Linked DNA regions of Homo sapiens: region 1 is linked to region 2. The links come from fine-mapping of genetic effects on gene expression. A gene starts in region 2. The other region holds a variant in brackets. All regions are shown on one strand. Distances are from middle to middle. Region 1 overlaps ATAD2B (ATPase family AAA domain containing 2B). Region 2 holds the start of MFSD2B (MFSD2 lysolipid transporter B, sphingolipid).

Evidence for each region. PIP is the estimated chance that this variant, and not a neighbour inherited with it, causes the effect. A credible set is the group of variants that fine-mapping cannot tell apart.
Region 1: its variant is the best candidate, but not a certain one, in a credible set for the expression of MFSD2B in whole blood (INTERVAL, PIP 0.76).

What each region holds. Positions count from the first base shown.
Region 1 is chr2:23,877,984-23,883,361 of GRCh38, reverse strand. It overlaps ATAD2B (ATPase family AAA domain containing 2B), which reads left to right. Exons shown (of 28, transcript NM_017552.4): 7 at 2,607-2,723. Among named protein-coding and RNA genes, the nearest start is that of ATAD2B, 46 kb to the left of the region's middle. The variant TG/G (reference allele first, on the strand shown) is at 2,799.
Region 2 is chr2:24,006,731-24,012,108 of GRCh38, reverse strand. MFSD2B (MFSD2 lysolipid transporter B, sphingolipid) reads right to left here and starts at 2,024. Exons shown (of 14, transcript NM_001346880.2): 1 at 1,917-2,024. The coding sequence starts at 2,012.

The DNA.
Region 1 (5,378 bases), 130 kb after region 2:
ATAAAAATTTTTCAAATAATGCTTTCTGATGTCATGAGTAAAATATAAAGTCCTTGGCAGGTTTTTTTTTTTTTTTTTTTTTGAGACAGTTTTTCACTCTGTCACCCAGGCTGGAGCACATTGTCACAATCACAGTTCACTGCAGCCTTGACCTCCCAGGCTCAAGCGATCCTCCCATGTCAGCCTCCTGAGTAGCTGGGACCATAAGCACATGCCATCATGCTCGGCTAAATCTTTTGTAATTTTTGTAGAGATGGGGTCTCAATATGTTTGTTGCCCAGGCTGGTCTTGATCTCGTGAGCTCAAATAGTCTTCCTGCCTCAGCCTCCCAAAGTGCTGGGTTTATAGGCGTAAGCCACCATGTCCAGCCCTTTGCAGTTTTAGTCTTCTACTTCCCTAAGTATCACTGCCAGCTTTATATTTTTTTCTATGCTTTAATATGATTGTGTTGTATTGACAGTTCTTGTGGTTAAAAAGTTACATATTGCATTTGGGCGTTCATATGCTTACTAATTTTCATCAGATCTTTTTTTTTTTGTTGTTGTTGTTGTTGAGATGGAGTCTCGCTCTGTTGCCCAGGCTGGAGTGCAGTGGTGCAGTCTCGGCTCACTGCAAGCTCCGCCTCCTGGGTTCATGCCATTCTCCTGCCTCAGCCTCCCGAGTAGCTGGGACTACAGGCACCCGCCACCATGCCTGGCTATTTTTTTTTGTATTTTTTGTAGAGATGGGGTTTCACTGTGTTAGCCAGGATGGTCTCGATCTCCTGACCTCGTGATCCTCCCACCTTGGCCTCCCAAAGTGCTGGGATTATAGGCATGAGCCACTGCGCCTGGCCTTTTTTTTTTTTTTTTTTTTTTTTAAATAGAGGCTGGGTGTGGTGGCTCACCCCTATAATTCCAGCACTTTCGGAGGCTGAGGCGGGTGGATCACTTGAGATCAGGCGTTTGAGGCCAGGCTGGCCAACATAGTGAAACCCTGTCTCTACCAACAATACAAAAATTAGCCGGGCATTGTGGTGCACGCCTGTAATCGCAGCTACTCGGGAGGCTGAGATATGAGAATCGCCTGAACCCGAGAGGCAGAGGTTTCAGTGAGCCAAGATCATGCACTCCAGCCTGGGTGACAGTGAGATTCTGTTTCAAAAAAAATAAAAATAAAAAAAAAATAGAGATGGAATCTTGCTATGTTGCCCCAGGCTGAACTCAAACTTCTGGGCTCAAGCCATCCTCCCGCCTTAGCCTCCTAAGTATTTGGGACTAGAGGCAGGTGCCTCTGCGTCCAGCTAGACTCTTATTTTAACTGTACTTAGATGTTATAGCTATTGCCAAATCATTTTTAAAAAATAATATTTTGGCTCACGCCTGTAATCCCAGCACTTTGGGAGGCCTAGGTGGGCAGATTGCCTGAAGTCAGGAGTTCAAGACCAGCTTGGTCAATGTGGTGAAACCCCGTCTCTACTGAAAATACAAAATTAGCCAAGCATGGTGATACATGCTTGTAGTCCCAGCTACTCAGGAGGCTGAGGCAGGCGAATCGCCTGAGCCTGGGAGGCAGAGGTCGCAGTGAGCTGAGATCGCGCCATTGCACTCCAGTCTGGGCAACAAGAGCAAAACTCCATCTCAAAAAAAAAGAAAAACCTTTTAGGATTTATGTACATTATAATTTATTTTTTAAGTGTATACAGTTTAAAAAATGAATTATAGCTGGGCGCGGTGGCTCACGCCTATAATCCCAGCACATTGGGAGGCCGAGGGGGGTTGATCACCAGGTCTGGAGTTCGAGACCATCTTGGCCAATATGGTGAAACCCCATCTCTACTAAAAATACAAAAAATGAGCCGGGCGTGGTGGCACGTGCCTGTAGTCCCAGCTACTCGGGAGGCTGAGGCAGGAGAATTGCTTGAATCTAGGAGTCAGAGGTTGCAGTGAAGCCCAGATCACGCCACTGTACTCCAGCCTGGCGACAGAGACTCTGTGTCAAAAAAAAAAAAAAAAAAAAAAAGAATTGATCACTCATGTCAAGAAATAAACTATTACCAATACCCTAGAAGTCTGTTTCATGCTCCCTCTCAATGCTTATGTGCACTTTGCTACCAAAATGTAACTAATCCATGCTTAACTGTGGTCAACAGGCCTAACAAATCATTACACTGCCAACAAAAGTTGCTCTTGCTGTAACATTAGTAATTACCTATAAGCATATTTTTTTGAATTATCAAGTGGTATTTGAATACTAATCTTATTTAGTGGTTAATTGAGCATTGATTGAAGTTTGCTGTAGTTGGGTAAAATTTTAAGTCTGTTTTCTATTATTGCATTGTATGAACAAGGAGAATCAAAGTTCCTAAGTAAATCAAGAGATAAAATATGATCATATTAATTTATTTAGCAGATAATTGTATTGATCATTGGCAGGGAAAGTATTTTCTTTTACATCCATTTAGGTTGATTTTTAATTATGTATGCTTTACGTAATATGTTGGCACTTAAATGTCACCTGTGCAGAAAGAGTAATGGATAAAGTGTAAATATTCAGTTCTAGAGTAGACCAATCCTTTTGAATTAAAATAATGCCTTTTTCTTTTCTTTTTGTGTGTGGGAAACTAGAATCTCAAGAGGAGGATGGAGATATAGAAGTTGAAGAGGCAGAAGGAGAAGAAAATGATAGACCATATAATTTGAGACAGAGAAAAACAGTGGATCGATACCAAGCACCTCCAATAGGTAGGCAACTCTAAATAACTTTTTTCTTTCTGGTAGTTGAGTAACTTATTCTGCCCCACTGCTTTTTTTTTTTTT[TG/G]AGACAGAGTCTCGCTCCATCGCCCAGGCTGGAGTGCAGTGGTGCGATCCCAGTTCACTGCAAGCTGTGCCTCCTGGGTTTATGCCATTCTCCTGCTTCAGCCTCCCGAGTAGCTGGGACTACAGGTGCCCGCCACCATGAGGTCAGGAGCTCGAGACCATCCTGGCTAACATGGTGAAACCCCATCTCTACTAAAAATGCCCTACTGCTTTTAAAAAAATTAATATTGCCAAATTTAAAAGAAGGCAATCTCTTATAGGTTTTATGTACTGTATTTTTTTTTACTACATATACTTCTGTGCACACACATGCAACTGAAAGAAAGTCAAAGTACATGGTAGCAGCATTGATTTACATACAGCATGTACATTTTATTTATAGAAGCTTGTGTTTAATAATATGGCTCATGCTTTTGCATTACACTGTATAGTTTACTGAGCACTTTACTTTAATTTATAGCAGTTCTTTAGGGAAAGTATCTCTCTCTCTCTTTTTTTTTTTTTTTTTAAAAACAGAGTCTGCAGTCACCCAGACTGGAGTACAGTGGCATTATCTCAGTGCACTGCAGCCTCTGCCTCCTGGGTTCAAGCAATTCTCCTGCCTCAGCCTCCTGAGTAGCTGGGATTACAGGTGCCCGCAACCACATCTGGCTAATTTTTATATTTTTTTCAGTAGAGACAGGGTTTCACCATGCTGGCCAGGCTGGTCTCGAACTCCTGACCTCAGGTGATTGGCCCACCTTGGCCTCCCAAAGTGCTGGAATTACAGGTGTGAGCCACTGTGCACGGCCTAGGGAGAGTATCTTTATGGTCCAAGAGGTTAAGTGACTTACCCGAGGTCACAAAAATAGTATACGGCTGCAGCTTGGCCAATAACTTAGTTGTTTTCTTTTTTTCTTTTTCTTTTTTTGCTGGCAGAAGGAAAAAGTTAAAAGTTTATCTTTTAGAGAAGGGATCTCACTATGTTGTTCATGGTGCAGTGTAATGGCTGTTCAGAAGCACAAATATAATACACTACAGCCTCAAACTCCTGAGCTCAAGCTATCCTCCTACCTCAATTCCTTGTATAGCTAGAACTACAGGTGTACAACCACCATGCCTAGCTAATTAATTTTTTTTGTAGAAACAGGATCTTGCTGTGTTGCCGAGGCTGGTCTTGAACTCCTGGCCTGAAGGGATTCTCCTGCCTTGGCCTTCCAAAGCACTGTGATGTCTTGAACCTCTGCATCCAGCTGTGTATTCCTTTTTTTTTTTCTTTTGCTGAATAGCATTCTGTGGTGTGGATATATCACAATTTGTTTATCCATTCATTTGTTATGTGACATTATGATCCTTTCCAGTTTTTGGTTATTACAAATAAAGTTGTGATGAACATTCACATGTAGGTCTTTGTGTGGACATATGTTTTTGTATTTCTAACAAATACCAAGGAGTAGAAAGGCTGGGTTTTATGATGAGATATAAGAAGTTACCAAACTCTTTTTTAAAGTGGTTATACCATTTTCACTAAGAGTGTATGAGAGCTGTAGTTGCTCTGTATTCTTGCCAACAATTGGTATACTCAGATTAATTAATTAATTTTAACAGGTATTTATTATAGTTTTAGTTTACATTTCCCTAATGGTGTTGGAGCATCTTTTCATTTGTTTTTCTTTTTGACAGTGTTAAATCTTGGGTAAAATGTCTGTTCAGATCTCTGGCCATTTTTTCAATTGGGTTGTTTGTTTTCTTATTATTGAGTTTTGAGATTCCTTATATGTTCTGGATATTAGACCTTTAACAGATATGTCATTTGCAAATATTTTTAAGACAAGACAGTCTGTTGCTTGTCTTTTTTATTCTCTCAATAGTATCTTTTGAAGAGCAGAAGTTTATTATTTTATTTTATTTTATTTTATTTATTTTGAGATGGAGTCTTGCTCTGTCGCCCAGGCTGGAGTGCAGTGGCATGATCTCGGCTTACTGCAAGCTCCGCCTCCCAGGTTCATGCCATTCTCCTGCCTCAGCCTCCCGAGTAGCTGGGACTACAGGCGCCTGCCACCACGCCTGGCTAATTTTTTTGTGTTTTTAGTAGAGACAGGGTTTCTTCGTGTTAGCCAGGATGGTCTCGATCTCCTGACCTCATGATCCGCCCGCCTCAGCCTCCCAAAGTCCTGGGATTACAGGCGTGAGCCACTGCACCTGGCCTATTTATTCATTTTTTGAGACAGAGTCTCACTCTGTTGCCCAGGCTGGAATGCAGTGGTGCAGTCTTGGCTCACTGCAGCCTCCGCCTCCTGGGTTCAAGCGATTCTCCTGCCTCAGCCTCCCAAGTAGCTGGGACTACAGGCATGCGCTACCACACCTGGCTAATTTTTGTATTTTTAGTAGAGATGGGGTTTCAGCATGTTGGCCAGGCTGATCTCGAACTCTTGTCCTTAGGTGATCCACACATGTTGGCCTCCTAAAGTGCTGGGATTACAGACCTGAGCCACCATGCCTGGCCCATTTGTAATTTTAATGAACTCCAATTTATACATTTTGCTTTTTTTTTTTTTTTTTTTTTTTTTCTTTGGAGATAGGGTCATCCAGGCTGGAGTG
Region 2 (5,378 bases):
CAATACCATTGCAGTTTGAATAAAACTCCAAGTCCTGATCATGGCTAAGGAGTCCACCCAGTCGGCCCCCTACCCACCTCACCTCAAATAGCTCTCCTTCAGCCACGCCGGGCTCCTTCCTATTCCTCAAAATCATCAAGTCTGTTGCTGCCTCAGGGCCTTTGCCCTTCCCATTCCTCTGCCTGGAAGGTGACTCCTTGTCATTCTGGTTTGATGTCACCAGCTTAAATGTCACCTCCTCCAAGAGGCATTCCCTAACCTCTCACCTCTCTCAGTTGTACTTACCGCCTGCTATATTTTCATTTAGTTCCTGCCTCTCCCTACAGGAATGTAAGCTCTCTGAGAGCATGAACTCCACCTTTTATTTATCATGGTGTTTCCAGTACCTAGAACAAAGCTTGGTATACAGTAGGTGCTTAGTATATATCCGTTGAAGCAATAAATGGCCATGAAGACCCTGTGTAAAGTGCTGTTTCTTTGGAAGAAGCTGGGCTCTTTTCTCATCGTTTGCTGGGGGCTGGAGGGAGTGGAGATGACATGGCTTCACCCATTTCCACATCTTGCAGGACACCCCAGCAGGCTCTTGTGAAGGGAAGGTCTCCCCAGATAAGGGTTTATCACACTTTGCACACTCTTCCTACCCACAGGGGAAAACCACACTGGGGGCAGGATGATTCTTTTCTGACATTTGTGTGAACATCATTTCAGCTTCCAGAAAACTTTAAGAACAGGCAGAATTCAACGTGACAGTCCCCCTCTCCCCCTAATGGGGACTCTTGTATCCCCCAAAACAGGCCTAGCAAGTTTTTAGAACTTTAGAAAGAACTTCCAAGTGAAGCCAGGGATATGATCCCATCTTGCCGTCTTGAGGATGACAGTTTTACCGAAAGTCATAAAAGCCCGGTACAGCTGTACAGTGAGCTGTACAAGGAGAAGCCCCTTGGGAGGGGCGGCTCCGGGCGAGGGGCGCAGCCCTGCTATCTCTAGCTGCGTGACCCAGGGCAGGGCACCTCGGTCTCCTTGGAGTGACCGGGGCTGCCACCCCTCGGAGAGTCGTAAGAGGATTCCACGCCGGAACTTCATCAGCAATGCGAGTGTTTCCCTCTTGCTGTTAATCTCACCCTGAATTTCTAAGTTTCCCTGGGAAGTGAGAGTCCCCGGAGAGCCCCTTCATCTCACCTCACTTTCTTGTGGGATGCAATCCTGTGCTCCCAGGTGCCTCGTAGGAAGCCCTGAACAGGCTGGGGGCTGAGGTGGTCAGGGGAGGCCACAGAATGCCCTGGGCACGAGCAGGGAGCAGGCGCGTTCAGTGAGGCCCAGGAAGCCCCAGGCCCCTTGCTCCGTCCAGCACAGCCCCACTGGCCAGCACGGCCCGGCGGCATCGGGCAAGGGACAAGGGGCCCCGAAGACCCCGCCGCTCCCACCTGCCCTCCTCCCTTCTTGTCGGAGCCCATGGCCAGGACCTTCCCTGAGGCTGCCTCCAAGGGGAGCCTGGTGCCTGGGCGAGGCCAGGGTCTGGGAGGGAGGCCGAGGCCACAGCAGCTGCCTGAGGTCGGGAAGGACGCAGCCTCCCCAGGCGCTTCAGAAAGCCCTGCCTGCCCAGAGCTCGGGGACCCCGGGAGGACCTGCGGTGGCACGGACAAGACCCCTAAGCCGGGAATCAGGACAGCAATGACCACGCATCCCCAAGTTACTTCCTTGGCTAGGGCTAGGCTTCCCGTCCTAGTCTCTTTCCGGCGCCGGCACCTACCAGCCTCCCCGCTCCCAGCCGTGTAACCCCGCGAGGGCAGCCCCTGAGCTGGCAGGTTTGGGCCGAGCCCCTCCGGGCTGCCCCCAGCTGGAAAAGGGGCTGCGAGGCGACGCCCTGGAGCTCCCCGAGGACGCAGCCCCTTCCCGGTCCCCGCCGCCCCGCTCACCTCTCGCCCTCGCTTGGCGCTCCCCGGGCCGGGCTCTGGGGCGTGCGGCTCCGGCTGCGGGGACCCCTTGGCGGCTGGTGCAGGGGGCGCCGCCATTGCCACCGCAGCGCCGCCCGCGGCCGTTGCCCTCGGGGTTATCGCCCTTGGGAGGGGCGGTTCTGGGCTAGGGGCGCGGCGCGAGTGGCTGCTGGCAACGCGGGGGAAACGCAGAAACCGCGAAGGGCACCCCAAAGGGAAACAGCGAAGAACCAAAATCCGCGGGGGGAAAGGCCCGGCAGGCCCTCAGGACCGTTCTCCTTGGGGTGGATCCCCGGGGGCGTGAGCGCCCGCAGACGGCGGCCCTGCGCGCTAAGGGCTCCGCCAGACCGCTGGGGTGACCGCGGGCAAGCAGCAGCTCCCCTGCAAAATGAAGCAAGAGGCCCGCTCGTTCAGGCTGGACCATGGCTGAACAGGCATTCCGCCGGCTACACATGATGCCCAACGCCTGAAATATACATTGTCGAGTCTCCTATACAGACCACGGGGATGGCCAGTAACTAAGTTCTGGCCAGCGAATAAAAGCAGGTGGCACAGGCCAACATTCCAGAAAAGTCCTTAAAAGGGAAGGGGGGTGACAGCAGGTAGCTAGTCAGCCTCGAAAAGGGCAGGAGAGGGCCACGCTTCCAACCAGGTACGTCAGGCAACCATCAGGCGACAGTCAGGCGGTTGTTATGCTCCCTCTAAAATGATCATTGATCCAGCGGGGCCAGGGAAAGGCAGTCTCCCAATAGATAGAGAAAACCTGAAACTGGTGATCAGCTTCTCGGTAAGATCTCAGGAGCTGGGCAAGTGGGCTTACACAAATTGCGGAGTTTAACTGACATGTGACCCTCGAAGGACACCGGACTGGTAAGGGAAGAACGCCTCCAGTGAGCATGGGTACAACTCCAGTATACACAGTGTGCACACTCCCCTCCCAAGTGCTGGCAGACCACTGCCCATGCAGGCAGGCCTCCCAAGGGAAGAATCAGGGGAGAAGGGATGCAAGACCCCAGAAGTATGCCAATGCATAAGACCCCAGGTCAAAAGGTCAAACTGTGCGCTTCTTTTTCAGGTCACCCGCTTGGCCCTCTTCCAAGTGTACTTTCCTTCCTTCCATTTCTGCTGTAGAGCTTTTTAATAAACTTTTATTCCTGCTCTAAAACTTGCCTCAGTCTCTCCTTCTGCCTTATGCCCCTCAGTGGAATTCTTTCTTCTGAGGAGGCAGGAACTGAGGTTGCTGCAGACCCATATAGATTCACTCCTGCTGACATATTTTGGTGCCACGTGACTCAGATACCTTCCACCAGTAACAGGGGTACACATTAACTAAAAATGCATCATAGACCTAGAATGTAAAACTTATGAAAAAACAGGAGCAAGGGACAGGCACGGTGGCTCATGCCTGTAATCCCAGCTACTCGGCAGGCTGAGGCAGGAGAATCGCTTGAACCCGGGAGGCGGAGATTGCAGTGAGCCAAGATCGTGCCACTGCATTCCAGCCTGGGTGACAGAGGGAGACTCTGTCTCAAAAACAAAAACAAAAACAAAACCAACCAAACACAAAAAACCCAGAAGCAACTCTTCATCATATTGGGCCAGGCAATTGTTTCTTAGGACGCCAAAAGCACAAGCTGGATGAACTACAAAAGTTTTCAAAATGAAAACCTTTGTGCTGTAAACGATTCCAACAAGTGGGTATAAAGACAACCCACAGAATGGGAGAAAAGGGATTTGTATTGGAATCAACTTTCACAACTCAACAATTAAAAGACAATCCAATTCTAAAATGGGCAAAGAATTTGGATATTTCTCTAAAGATATACAAATGAACAGTAAGCACATGGAAATACAAATCGAAACTACAGTGAGACACCATTTCATATCCACAGGGTGGCTGTAATTAAAATGAGACAAGTATTGGGGAGGATGTGGAGAAATCAGAACCCCTATACACTGCTAGTGGGAATGGAAACTAGTGACAGTCCTTTGGAAAAGTTTGGCAGTTTCTCAAAGTAAAACGTGGAATTACCACATGACCCGCAATTCCACTCTTAGGTGTATACACCCTACAGAAATGAAAACATGTTCACATAAAATCTTGAACATGAATGTTCATTAGCAGCATTCATATATATATACATATATATATAATGTGTGTGTGTATATATATATGCCAAAGAGGACACAAGCCAATGTCCATCAGGTTATGAATGAATAAATATAATGTGGTATATCCATACAATGGACTACTGTTGGGCAAGAAAAAGGAATGAAGGACCAATGCATGCTACAACACAGATGAACCTTGATGACAGTATGCTAAGTAAAAGAAGCCAGTCACAAGACTACAAATTGTATTATTCCATTTATGTCAAATGTCTAGAATAGGCAAATAGAGAGTGACAGAATGTACATTTGTAGTTGCTTGGGACTGGGCTAGGGAGTTACTGCTAAGGCATGTGAGGTTTTAGAATGGACAAACATTTTCTAAAGTTAAATTGTGATGGTTGCACAACCCTATAAATACACTAAAAACCATTGAATTGTATACTTTATTTTTATTTATTTATTTTTTTGAGACAGAGTCTTGTTGCCCAGGCTGGAATGCCGGGGCACGATCTCGGCTCACTGCAACCCCCACCTCCCGGGTTCAAGTGATTCTCCTGTTTCAGCCTCCCGAGTAGCTGGGATTACAGGCATGTGCCACCACTCCCGGCTAATTTTTGTATTTGTAGTAGAGATGTGCTTTCACCATGTTGGCCAGGCTGGTCTTGAACTCCTGATCCTCAGGTGATCCACCTCGGCCTCCCAAAGTGCTGGGATTACAGTGAGCCATCGGCCTAGCCTGAATTGTATACTTTAAATGGGTGAATTGCACAGCATGTGAATTACATCTCAATAAAGCTGTTTAAAAGGAAAGATATCTGCTTCTTCCTATTGGCTGAAATACAAATGTGTCGGCTGGTGCTAGTGCAGCTACCCTGAGACCCCAAGTCTACAGAGTGATGAGATTGGCAGATCAACAGTACAGGAATCTGATGATTTTATGAGGTTGATCTACCAGCCCTGAACTGCTTCCCTCTGGACTTTTGCATGGGAAATAAAATTTGACCTTGTAAGCAACTATTATTCTGGATTTTCTGTCACAGCTAAATCTAATCCTAAAGGATACACTACCCAGTTTAGAGCAAGTCATTCCATTTTATATGTCTTAATTCCTTAATCTACAAAATGGGTACATTTTGTTTCCCTGATTGCAAATACAAGGATAGATTAGATAATGCATGTGCTAAATATTTAATTCCTTGGAAATTAAATATAAACTAAAGCCAAAGTTTCTTTAGATAATCTACTTTTACAATTTGTGGGTTTTTTTTTTTTTTCCTTTCTGTGGAGAATAGGATCTTGCTATGTTTCTCCGACTGGTCTCGAACTCTTGGG